4 linked regions of the Homo sapiens genome follow. The protein of the gene in region 4 interacts with the protein of the main gene of each other region in a pairwise test. Each region holds a gene or a part of one and is shown on either strand. Other genes may lie near its edges.

Evidence for each region.
Region 1: the proteins of SDCBP (region 4) and CLK3 interact in binary tests that used the Homo sapiens proteins (3 or more experiments, as listed by UniProt).
Region 2: the proteins of SDCBP (region 4) and TSN interact in binary tests that used the Homo sapiens proteins (3 or more experiments, as listed by UniProt).
Region 3: the proteins of SDCBP (region 4) and SSC5D interact in binary tests that used the Homo sapiens proteins (3 or more experiments, as listed by UniProt).

What each region holds. Positions count from the first base shown.
Region 1 is NC_000015.10:74,628,269-74,630,701, reverse strand, and holds the end of CLK3 (dual specificity protein kinase CLK3), read right to left. Parts: intron 2,099-2,433; coding exon 2,019-2,098; intron 1,761-2,018; coding exon 1,670-1,760; intron 996-1,669; coding exon 819-995; 3' UTR 501-818; downstream 1-500. UniProt on the Homo sapiens protein: Dual specificity kinase acting on both serine/threonine and tyrosine-containing substrates. Phosphorylates serine- and arginine-rich (SR) proteins of the spliceosomal complex.
Region 2 is NC_000002.12:121,762,151-121,765,650, reverse strand, and holds part of TSN (translin), read right to left. Parts: intron 2,647-3,500; coding exon 2,567-2,646; intron 518-2,566; coding exon 284-517; 3' UTR 1-283. UniProt on the Homo sapiens protein: DNA-binding protein that specifically recognizes consensus sequences at the breakpoint junctions in chromosomal translocations, mostly involving immunoglobulin (Ig)/T-cell receptor gene segments.
Region 3 is NC_000019.10:55,512,436-55,515,935, reverse strand, and holds part of SSC5D (soluble scavenger receptor cysteine-rich domain-containing protein SSC5D isoform 1 precursor), read right to left. Parts: intron 2,926-3,500; coding exon 2,764-2,925; intron 1-2,763.
Region 4 is NC_000008.11:58,556,261-58,559,760, reverse strand, and holds part of SDCBP (syntenin-1), read right to left. Parts: intron 1-3,500. UniProt on the Homo sapiens protein: Multifunctional adapter protein involved in diverse array of functions including trafficking of transmembrane proteins, neuro and immunomodulation, exosome biogenesis, and tumorigenesis.

The sequences.
Region 1 (2,433 bases), on a different chromosome or scaffold from region 4:
CTCTGTCTTCAGTTCTTTTCAGGGGCATCCTGCCCATAGTACCCAGTTCCCAAGGGGCCCCCAGTCACGTGGTGAAGCCTAGCACTCATGCAGCTCTTAGGGAACCAAAAACCAGCACTGAAATAAAGCTGAATGACTGACTGAGTCCTGTGCCGTGTGACTTGCTCTGTAGGCTGTCATGAGGTGCTGTCTGTCCCAGCCTAGGAACCCGCCCCACTCGTCTCCTGCCCTCAGCAGGCCATAGTTGTTGGGCACATACAGCCTAAAGTCCTGGCCAGTAATGGGACTGGCAGGCTGTGGAAAACCAGACCCCACCTGGCTAGCCACGGTGGGCTGATTCCCTTAGGTTCTCTGGGGCTGAGAGGTACAGAAGCCAGCAGGGCAGAGGTGCCATCTAGGACTGCTCAGCAGCCTGGGCCCAGAGGATGTCCCCAATTCTGGTCTTACCCCTGCCTAGCTCTTCTGTGCCTGGCCCAGTTCACACTTAGCTCTCCACAAGCTGAACTGCTAAGAAAGACTTTATTAATAAGGTCAGGTAAGGGGAAGGCAAGGAGCCTGGAGATGGACACACTGGTACCAGGGGTTACAAACAGTAAGAAACACTTTATTATAACTTTATAACATATAAATAGCTTGGGTCAAATCTGTGCTTTCTGGCAGCTGGGCACCAAGTCTGCTCCCCTGCAGGCTCCTGCCTTCCTTCACATTGCACTGTTCATTGGGTGGCTCTGGCCTGGGGCCTGGCGGTCGAGGCTGGAGTCAAGGGGCTGGGCGGCCCAGTCCCGCCCTCCATCTCCTCATGCGGTGGCCTGTGCCTGTCATCTGCTTGGGTTGCGGCTGGTGTGGAAGGACCGCTCCTCAGGGGTCAGGCCAGCAAAGAAGGGGTGCAGCAGGGCCTCGGCCAGTGTGATGCGCTGGGCAGGGTCAAATTCTAACATCCTCCTCATCAGGTCAAACAGCTGCACGTGCTCCAGGGAGTCTTGGAGCATGTAACTCTGCTCAGGGACACAAGGTGCCTCAGTGTGACGGCAGGGTCGTGGGAAGCCACAGCAGGTCCCCTTGCCTCTGGGACGCCTTGCTGGACTGGATCGAGGAGGCAGTGATGCCTCCTTGGAGGACTCTACTTCCGCCCTCCTGGACAATGAGCAGCTCCTTTCCTTTCATGCCTGTTTAACGTTTTGCTCGGAACTTGCCAGGCTACTAGGTGTCTTGCTGGGTTGATGCCTCTGCCCCCACATGCAAAGTCCTGACAGGTGGGTAGAGATCACCTCTGCGAAATTCACTTGTCCGAGCACCAAATGCAGTTGACAGAGGCTTCCTGGCCATGTCTAGGTCTTCCCTCCCCCTCACCTCAGTCCTGCCTAGTTCTTCCCAAAATTTCGAGGAGAGAGAGGGACAGGAAGCAGCAGGGCTTCTGACATCTGGCTCTTCTGGTGTTCCCCAATTACATTCATAGCCACCCTATGGGGAAGGGGTAGGGCTAAGGGCCCCTCTGGGGCAGTTTGCAAGAAGCCCCATTGCCAGCACCCAGCAGTCTTGGGTGCCGCCTCCCATAGAGCTGGATCAAGGAGGCAGCCTTTAGCGGCCTGGCCTGTCTCTGCTGTATGTCTGCCCAGTGCCTGGGGTCTCTCCTTGGCATGAGTTCAGCTGGGGGTAGCCAGAAACTGACCTTCAGAGGTTTGCAGTTCTCCTTCACATACCGGCCGTCAGAGCTGTTCTCATCCCAAACTAGGCCCCCTTTGTAGAAATATTTCTGCTTCCTGAAAATTAAGGGGGTGGAGTCAAGTGTGGGAGTAGTAAGGGGACAAGCCTCTGGTGGGAGGTGGGGAAGAGCAGCTCCCAAGACAGCAGCAGAACCAGGGCAACAGGTCTGCAGGGGCACACAGGGAAGGCTTTTAGGAGCCTGCGGAACCATGGACTGTCCAGCAAAGACTCACCACATCCAGTACCCTGCTGACCCACAGCCAAGAAGAGAAAGGCCTCTATACCAACCCTGAGGGGGCTACTGGGGTCCTTACCTGGTACGGTGGATCATGTGTGATGGGATGGGCCCTAGGATCTTCTCCATCATCACCAGGTGCTCTCGGTTTTCGTGGGTCTGTGGAAGATTAGGGACAGTGCAAGGGGGTCAGTACTAGCTCTGGCCCCTTCAAGGAGAAAAAGGAACAAGAAAGATGGGCAAGTGCCCTCACTGCCCCAGGACATGCAAACCTACCAATGAAGCGGCAGCCCCAGCTTCTCCTGCCAGCCTGTGCCTAGGCTCCTCAGCCCTTGTGGGTGGAGGTGGACTGGGCTGTGACTACATTTCTCTCTGGTTAGCTCTTCACTCCCTGCCCAGAACATGCCCTGTCCCAGCCCATCCCGATGCCTTTAGTCATCTGTGCCCCTTATCTAGAAGGTCAGGTCACCTCCTACCCCATCCTCCATCCTCGA
Region 2 (3,500 bases), on a different chromosome or scaffold from region 4:
AGGACTTTACCAAGAAACTAACATTTACACTTTCTGACGGAACTGAAATACACTGAATTACAGGCATATTCACTGAAACAACAAAAAAAATTCTGTCCATGTAAAGGCTATATTTTTTACCCCCAAAAAAGTGTTTCAATTCTGATACTCACACCACAACTGGTTAAGAAAATAAAGCGCAGTGTTTAGCAACTGAGCATCCTAACTACCGTAAGAGGCACTCTGTGCTCACCCCTTCCTGGCAACCGCTGAGGTCAGCAAGGCCAGGAGCAAGGAGAGCCTCCTATTTTTCAACACAAGCTGCTGCCGTCTCCTTATTAAAGCCCCGGATGGAGAGATCATAGACCACTTCCTCTACTTTCTTCACGTCATATTTCAATCCGTCGTAGCGCTTCCTCAGGGAGTCATTTTTCAGGTTGAGAAGGCGAAAACCGGAATCCAGCTCATTGATGAAGGTGGAGATGTGGAGGGGTCGGGAGTAGTCTCCAGCAGTCACGCTGTTGACAGACAGCCTCGACTGTACCAGGAAAGAGAAAACAGGGGCTTGTTACAACATGGCTCCTTCTCAGCGCATCTTCCTCTGAATCACAACCAGAAGAACCGCAAGCCTAGACAGCCACGCTGATCTTCTATCTCAGGGTACACACAAGTACAGACAAGACAGGAGCTTCTCTGAAAAGAATCCCACTGAAAATGAGACCAGTTCTGCCAAGTAAAATTTAACATTACTAACATCTAAAATTTCTCTAATTTCTTAAACTGGCTATTGCATAATAAAGTGTTACATTACACAAGCATCTTTACAGCTCATCTGCTATCATATCGAAGAAAGAAACGACAAAATAATCACAGCAGCTCCACTACCTCTTCCAACCTTGGCCAAATGATCACATTTCTAGAGCCCACCTACTAAGCTGCAACTCCAGTCACCTAGAATCAAGTAAGGCAGACTTGGGATAAGAATCTAAAATTATGTTAGTGTAACCCTGTCTTGAAGGAGAACTAACATTGATTTCAAGACCCAACCCAAGACTCCCCTTCTCGGTGTCAGTATACAACCCCCTACTGCTCCATTTGACTGGCTTTAAAAAATATATTAAAATAATAAAAAAGATTCCCCTTTCTGTAAAATCCTCTCCACTTTTCCAGGCTTACCCCTTTAGTGCACTGTCAACATACGGGTTTTTTGTTTGTTTGTTTGTTTTTAATATAGAGAAGGGGTCTTGCTTTGTTGCTTAGGCTGGTGTGGAACTCCTGGCCTCAAGGGATCCTCCCACCTTGGTCTCCAAAACTGCCAGCATTACAAGCGTAAGCGACTGTGCCCGGCCCCAACATGTATGGTCCTAAAGACACCTTACACTTAACTAATACTAACAAGATGCTTCCTGTTTACTGGTCAGGTGTCTCCAACAAGCCAGACAAGTGGTACAGCCTACAAGTGGACCCCATCATCCATTCTCACCATCTTCCTCAGGTTTTCAATGCACACATACCCACTCCAATAGACTCCATTTCTGCCTCCCTGCAGGCAAGGCACCAGAATGTTAACAGAAGTTGTGTGTACAACTTCAAAGAAATGTCCTTAAAGCGGGAGGGCATACCATTTTCCCTATTTCCTCCTACTGCTGGCTAGAGTGAAGATGTGACTAGAGCAACAGTTCTGGAACATAAGAAAGAAGCTGAAGCTAGAAGAACCTAGGGCCAAAGATCAAGGAATCATCAGACCAGCCCTGGACTGCTTTCCTCTGGAGCAAGGACAAGCAAACTTTTTCTTAACGAGCCAGATAGTAAATATTTTCACCTCTGCAGACTGGCACAGTCTCTATCACAACTACTCAATTTTGCTACTGACAGCTTTTTTTTTCTTTAGACTTTTACAGGGCAATTTCCCTAGATAGTGGTTAAAGGAATAAAGGATAAGAATAACTTAGTTATATAGACAAATGAGTGTCCAAAACAATTACATGGATTAACAGTTACCAGGAATAAATGTTTTGCCACTACCCTAAAAGGAAGAGGTCTTATCATCGGTTAAAAATTCTTAACTCAGTAAGTATGCACTCATCATTTGATCTGGCTTTTCTCTGATGCCTAGTAAATTGTAACACATACAGTGCCAGTCAGTGACTACCTGGTGACCGAGAGATGGCTTAGAAAAGAATTAAGACGTTCTGAATTTTGGTACCCATTTTAAAAACAGACAGTGGGCCAGGCACAGTGGCTCACGCCTATAATCCCAGCACTCTGGGAGGCCAAGGTGGGCGGATCACGAGGTCAGGAGATCGAGACCATCCTGGCTAACACGGTGAAACCCCGTCTCTACTAAAAATACAAAAAAAAATTAGCCGGGTGTGGTGGCGGGCGCCTGTAGTCCCAGCTACTCAGGAGGCTGAGGCAGGAGAATGGCATGAACTCGGGAGGCGGAGCTTGCAGTGAGCCGAGATTGCGCCACTGCACTCCAGCCTAGGCGACAGAGCGGGACTCTGTCTCAAAAAAAAAAAAAAAAAAAAAAACTGACAGTGAAGCAGAAAGATCAAAAAAGCAACCAGCAAGTTACTGAGCTTACCAGTTCACTGGCAAGAATTAGAACTCCTGAGAGATAATCTTCTACATCCAGATGAAATCCTTTCTCCCGATCTGGCTCAACTAAAAAACACATGAAAATAAAGTCATGCTGTGAATGCAAGTTAAGCCTCAGAATATAAAAATATACACATAATTTCTCCCAAAGTAAGTGAAGAAAGGATGAATCTTTTAAAAACTGGCTTTTTAATATATTCACAACCTTGGCAACTAGACCTCACTATGGATTTTTTGAGTTCTTAAGCAAAATTCAATTCAGTCTTCCCTCAAAAATACTATCAAAAACAGTATCTAGTTGTGTCACAGAATATACTTCTTGTTAGAAAGCACATGATAAAGCATTTCAGAAAGGAGTTACGATATTTGCAACTTTCAAATGGCTGACAAAGACACACACAAAATGAGAAGATTAAGCAGATGTAGCAAAATGTTAACAAGTGGTAAATCTAAGTGGCATGTAAACAGGTATTCATTGTACTATTCTTTCAATTTTTCTGTAGGCTTGAAATTTTTAAAAATTCAATTTTAAAAACTAAAGCAAGTGCAAATGTGTTTGCCATTGTTATTTTTAGCTTTTACATTTCCAGGTAGAGTCGGCCCTCTGCGCTAACCAACTATGGATAGAAAATATTTGGGAAAAGGCCAGGCGTGGTGGCTCATGCCTGTAATCCCAGCACTTTGGGAGGCCAAGGCGGGCAAATCACGAGGTCAGGAGTTCAAGACCAGCCTGGCCAACATGGTGAAACCCTGTTTCTACTAAAAAAATACAAAAAATTGGCTGAGTGCGGTCACTCACGCCTGTAATCCCAGCACTTTGGGAGGCTGAGGCAGGCGGATCACCTGAGGTCAGGAGTTCAAGACTAGCCCGACCAACATGGAGAAACCTCATCTCTACTAAAAATACAAAATTAGCCGGG
Region 3 (3,500 bases), on a different chromosome or scaffold from region 4:
GGGCTAAGACTTGAACCCAAGTTGTTTGCACATAGAGTCTAGGCAATGAAATCTCACATCTGCAGTGATGGGAATGCGCTGTGATCTACCGTGCCAATACAGTAGCCACTGGCCACATGTGGCTACCAAGCCCTTGAAATGCGGCCAGTGTGAATGAGAAACTAAATGTTTCATTTTCTTTTATTTTATTTTATTTTTTTTTTTGAGACGGAGTCTCACTCTGTCGCCCAGGTTAGAGTGCAGTGGCACGATCTCGCCTCACTGCCAGCTTTGCCTCCCAGGTTCATGCCATTCTCCTGCCTCAGCCTCCCGAGAAGCTGGGACTACAGGCGCTCGCCACCATGTCCTGCTAATTTTTTGTATTTTTAGTAGAGATGGGGTTTCACTGTGTTAGCCAGGACGGTCGCGATCTCCTGACCTCGTGATCCGCCCGCTTCGGCCTCCCAAAGTGCTGGGATTACAGGCGTGGCCACTGCGCCCGGCAAATGTTTCATTTTCAAAGTGTTAATTCATTTAACTTTTTTTTTTTTTTTTTTTTTGAGACGGAGTTTCACTCCTGTTGCCCAGGCTGGAGTGCAGTGGCGCGATCTTGGCTCGCTGCAATCTCCGCCTCCTGGGTTCAAGTGATTCTCCTGTGTCCACTTCCTGAGTAGCTGGGATGACAGGCATGTGCCACCATGCCCAGCTAATTTTTTTGTATTTTTAGTAGAGATGGGGTTTCACTATGTTGTTCAGGCTAGTCTTGAACCCCCGACCTCAGGTGATCTGCCTGCCTCAGCCTCCCAAAGTGCTGGAATTTCAGGCGTGAGCCACCATGCCCGGTGCTCTTAGCTACCGTATTGAACCACACAGATCTACAGATTTCCACTTGTTCCTGCAGGGCAGGGTCTTTCAGGCGCATCCCTTCCCCACCTTGTCCTTTGTTTGCAGGATTGGAGAAGCGGTTAAGTAAAGGGCTTGTGCTCAAGGCAGGCTGTCCGAGTTTAAACCCCAGCTGCATGGCTTCCTAGCGGGGTGACCACGGCCAAGTTACTTCACTGCTTGAATCTCAGTTTCTTCCTCAGCTATAGACTGTGGATGATCCGCGTATCTCCCTTGCAGAGCTGTCAAAAGGACTCAGGGAGACCATGGTTGTGCAAAGCACTTAGTGTAATGTCTAGCATGGAATAAGCACTCTAATAATTATTGATGTCAGAGTCACTGATGTCTGTGCCTCAATTTCACTCATCTGAGAAATGGGCAAAATTATAGATCTACGTCATGGAGCTCATGCAGATTTCCTTCCCTCCTTTCTCCCTTCCTCCCTTCTTCTCTCTCTCTCTTTTTTTTTTTTTTTTAACAGAGTCTTTCTCTGTTGCCCAGGCTGGAGTGCAGTGGTGCGATCTCAGCTCACTGCAACCTCCGCCTCCCAGGTTCAAGCAGTTCTCCTGCCTCAGCCTCCCGAGTAGCTGGGATTACAGGCGCCTGCCACCACACCTATTATTATTATTATTATTATTATTATTATTATTATTATTATTATTATTATTTTGAGACAGAGTCTCACTCTGTTGCCCAGGCTGGAGTGCAGTGGCGCAATCTCGGCTCACTGCAAGCTCTGCCTCCTGGGTTCACGCCATTCTCCTGCCTCAGCCTCCCGAGTAGCTGGGACCATAGGTGCCTACCACCACGCCTGGCTAATTTTTTGTATTGTTAGTAAAGACAGGGTTTCACCGTGTTAGCCAGGATGGTCTCGATCTCCTGACCTCGTGATCTGCCCGCCTCAGCCTCCCAAAGTGCTGGGATTACAGGCGTCAGCCATTGCAGCCAGCCTAATCATGCTTAACTTTACTAAATACTGCTGGATTGTCTTTATCAAACAGCTCTGTCCAGTGGGGTTGCCTGTCTTCCCACATCCTCACTCACACTGGATAATACCCACCTTTCTCATTCTCCTCTGTACTTGCCATTGTTTTAATTTGTATTTTCTGGTTCCTGATGAGCGTGGGCATTTCTAAATACACTCAGCCATTTGGGCTTCCTTTTCTGGGAATCACCTGTTTTCCTCTTTCTCATCTAGGGTTTCCTATCATTTTCCTATTTGTCACAGTGACTTATGCCATCTAGGCTGGGGTTTCTCAACCTCGGTACTATTGTAATTTAGGGCTGGGTGGTTCTTTGTTATGGGGAATGTCGTGTGCATTGTGAATGTTTATCACCACCCCGGCCTCTACCGATCAGGTGCCAATGGGTAGCCTCTCACTTCCTGCCATGACAATCCAAAATATCTTCAGATATTGCCAAATTCCCCTTGGGGGCAAAATCGACCCTAGTTGATGACCAGCGGTCTAGATAATAACCTCTTGGTTCTGTTTTTGTCTTTATTTGAGACAAGGTCTCGCTCTGGCACCCAGGCTGGAATACAGTGGCACAACCACAGCCTCGAGCACCCAGGCTCAAGGGATCCTCCTGCCTCAGCCTCCCAAGCAGCTGGGACCACACGTGCGTACCACCACACCCAGCTAATGTTCATATCTTGGGGGGCTCACCATGTTGCCCAGGCTGCTCTCAAACTCCCGAGCTTAAGCAATCCTCCCAACTCGGCCTCCCAAAGTGCTGTGATTACAGGCATGAGCCACCATGCTCAGCCGATAACCCTTTGTTTTAGGGTATATTTCTGCTGAGTCTTTCTGGGGTAAGGGTTCCAGTGGGGAGTCTGGAATCTGTCTCTTTACCCCAGGACAAATACCGTCCCAGTCTCCTCACCCCAGCCACGTGTCTCACCTGTGTCTCCATGGACTCTCAGAGTTGGAGGACTGCCTGGGCTCCTGGTGGTGCCAGCCCCAAGAGTTGGTCCTAGTTTGCCTGCGGTAGGGGTCCCCTCAGCCAGGCCCCTTCCTGATGGTGTGTCCCACGTCCAGGGAAGCTTGTAACCATCTTTGCTGCCTAGAGAGATATGGGGAAGAGGATTGAGTCTTCCAACTTCCCTTTGAGTTTGACTCCCCGTCTCTCTCCTCCTGGGCCAGCCCCAGTTCAGGCATCATCCCGTCTCAACTGCACCGCCACTGCAGCCCTACCTGACCTCGTGGAGACCTTCTCCATTCAGCTGGGATGTTTTTGGCTACCAACGACGGAAACGGTCACTAAACTAGCACATAAAATGAAGGGCATTTGGGCCTGGCGCCGTGGCTCAAGCTTGTAATCCCAGCACTTTGGGAGGCTGAGGCAGGCAGATCACTTGAGGTCAGGAGCTCAAGACCAGCCTGGCCAACATGGAGAAACCCCATCTGCACTAAATATACAAAAAATTAGCTGGGTATGGTGGCACACGCCTATAATCCCAGCTACTCGGGAGGCTGAGACAGGAGAATCACTTGAACCTGGGAGACAGAGGTTGCAGTGAGCCAAGACTGTGCCACTGCACTCCTGCCTGGGTGACAGAGCGAGACACCGCCTCAAAAAAAAAAAAAAAGGAATTTATTATTTTAATTCCTCAAGGCTCCTGCCCTAGCGGGGGAAAA
Region 4 (3,500 bases):
TGGTGTGTGTATTGTTATTGAATCAGTATTTCTGTGGGGAGAAGAAGCATATGAGCTTTCTATTGCACCTTCTTGCTGCTATTACACATCTTTTGTTTCTTTTCTAATTTCTCTGGCTATAATCTCCAGTACAATGGTGAATAGTAGTGGCCTGGTACAGTCCTTAAGGGAAAAACAGAATCTGGGTTTGTGAGAAAAAAAAAAAAATTCACATTCTTGAGAGAGCACTATCAAATATGATTTAATTGTATTAATCCAGGAGAACAAAGTGAATTATCTTCTTTGGGTTCAAAGGATCAATTTCCTAGCAGCCTTTCCCTAAACACAATTTTTTGCCTTATTTAAACTTTCAGCCATTCTATCAATATAAACAAAATGCATATGATATATAATATACAAAATGCAAAGCAAGTTGCAATATCAACAACCAAAATGCACTGAAAAGAATGTTACCTGGCCATCTAATATTATTTCTATTTTTGATTTCTTTTTTTGATTCTGTCATTGGCTAACTTCAAAATCCCACTGTTCTCATGAAAAATGAAGTGGTTTCCTAACTTTTCTCTCCATAGAAGTTTCTCTTCAAATAAATATTAACTGAAGTTGTCTGAACAACTCTTGAGTTAATTCACACACCAGCAACTCAAGCCTAGAAGAAAAATGGACTTTCAAAATTTTTTTTAAATAACAAATATTACCGTAATTTACACTTCTGAAAAAGTAAGTTTCAGGTTTGCTTTAAGTGTACTGATCTTAATTAACTCTCACTGTTTTTTAAATCACAAAGCATTCCTCAATTTTACTTTCTTGACCCATTTCATTAAATTTCTTTCCACGTATTAAAATGTTGTAGCTGCAAACCACTGACTATTTGCCACCCAGGTCACATGCTTCCATGCCTGCATATTTTTGTAAAAGGTGCATTCTCTTCCAGGAATGTCCTTCCAGGACTTCTCCACCAATCAAAATCCTAGTTAGCCTTGAGGCATAGGTCAAGTGTCACTTCTTAAAAGAGGGTGACTTTGAAGGCTTCAGTTGGATATTATTTGCTCCTCCCAACTCCTCTCAACTCTGCCTCAGATTATAGCTAGTACATGTTTATCTCCACTACTTGAAGGCAGGACTCAATTTAGTTTATTTACACAGCATAAACACTTTTTCCTCATCCTCAAAGATATCAAATGTAGCTGGGCGCAGTGCCTGTAATCCCAACAGTTTGGGAGAAAAAGGTAGGTGGATCACTTGAGCCCAGGAGTTTGCGACCAGCTTGGGCAACATGGAGAAACCCCATCTCTACAAAAAATATAAAAAACTAGCCAGGGACAGCAGCACATGCCTGTAGTCCTAGCTACTTGGGAGGCTGAGGTAGGAGGACCACTTGAGCAAAGGAGGTTGAGGCTGCAGTGAGCTGTGGTCACACCACCACATTCTAACCTGGGTGGACAGACTGAGACCCTGTCTCACCAATAAAAAAAACTTTTTAAAAAGAAGATACCAAATGTTAGTATTTTGACAAATGTCATCAAAACAACAGTAAATAAGATATCTTTAAACACTTATTGAAAAGATCAAAATATTCTTAGGGCAAGTCCGTACTTTTGAACCTAACAGTGTAAAAAGCCTTCCAGGAAAATGATAAATGCTTTATTTTTCTGAAGGGCTCCATTAAGTCACTTGTACATTATATTTAAATCTTTGACCTAATGGGAACTGTTAGAAACACAGCCCTTTTTCAAGAACCACAAAGCTAACTCTGGGAAATCCTTCTAATTGTGGCTGGAATTTTATAATGACCAATAATGAGGTTTAAGAGGATTCTGAAAGTAACTATTACATCAGTGGAAGAATCTCATTTTACCTCACTTGCAACTCTTATCAAACATTATTATTGTACGAACTAAACTAAAGAATTTTGTTTCTAGGCTTTCCTTCGAGCTGAGTAATCACTAAGAAGATAAAACTCCCACTACTCTTTAAGGGTTTGATCAAACCTTCCTGACCACTACAGCTTTTTTCCACTGGCCTAATTCCTTGGAAAGAAATGGTACTGCCCACATACCCTTTGACCAGGTTTGGCCCACACTACATTATTTGCAATCTCTGTGACTCACTTCATGCATTATGAAAGGCCCCTACACCCAATGTATCTCAGGCCTCAGAAGTAACTCACAAATAGTTTCTATTAAGAGATCTTTCAGTGGGTGGGATAGTTTCGGACTTTTTCAGAACACCAAAAGGCTATATATATATTATATATGTGTGTGTGTGCATATGTATTATATATAACATATATAATATGTATTATATAATATGTATTATATGTATTATATATAATATATATTATATTACATTATATTATTATATTTTAAATATAAATATTTTTATATTTATATATTTTTATATATCTATATATTTTATATATTTATATTTATATATTTTATATTTATATATAATTAAATATAAATATCTAAATATAAATATTTTAAATATAAATATTTAAATATAAATATTGATTAAAATTAATATCATTTTCCTGGAATATATAAATAATATAATATTAATATATAATAATACTATATTATATTATAATATACATTATAATTATATATTATAATATTGTATATAATATATACTATATTGTATATAATAGTATAATATATAATATATGGTATAAATTATACTATACTATACTATATAATATAGTATATAATAAGTATATCTTATATACTTATAATATAGTATATAAGATATAGTATAATAGTATGATATACAATATATATTATGTTATATATAATATATAAATCATTATATATTATTCATAAATAATATATATTATATATAATTAGAATATATTATAATACGTATTATACGTATTATAATATATATGTATTATATATGTTATATATAATACATACATTTTATATATATATGTATTTATATATTGTCTGCCTCAGTACCAAGTTTCCCATTTGTCCCTCAACCCCCTCAGGGCAATATAAGAGTAACCTCCTTGAAGTCTTTAAATATGTGTACAGAACGAAGGCCCTCAACTTAAATACTTATGTGATATTTTGGAATTCTAGTTTATTCGCTCTCTGGACACAATATTCTGATTAATGAAGTAGGAAACACTGGCAAAGTTTTCCAAATAATATCACCTAGAATGGCAATACTCATCATTTTCTGAGTTATTAACCTCACCCCTTCTCAAACCACCAACTACAACTGGCCTCCCTTAAAAATGACATGTGACTGTTTAAGGTGAAATAATGTTTATTTGCTTCTTTTAATCTAAGCTATTAAAACAGGAGTTCCCAACCCCCGGGCCATGGACCAGTACCAGTCGGTGGCCCATTGGGAACCAGGCCACCCACAGCAGGTGAGTGGCAGGTGAGCCAGCATTACCACCTGAGCTCCAGCTCCTGTCAGATCAGTGGCAGCATTAGATTCTCACAGGAGCAGGAACCCTATTGTGAATTGTGCATGCAAGGGATCTAGGT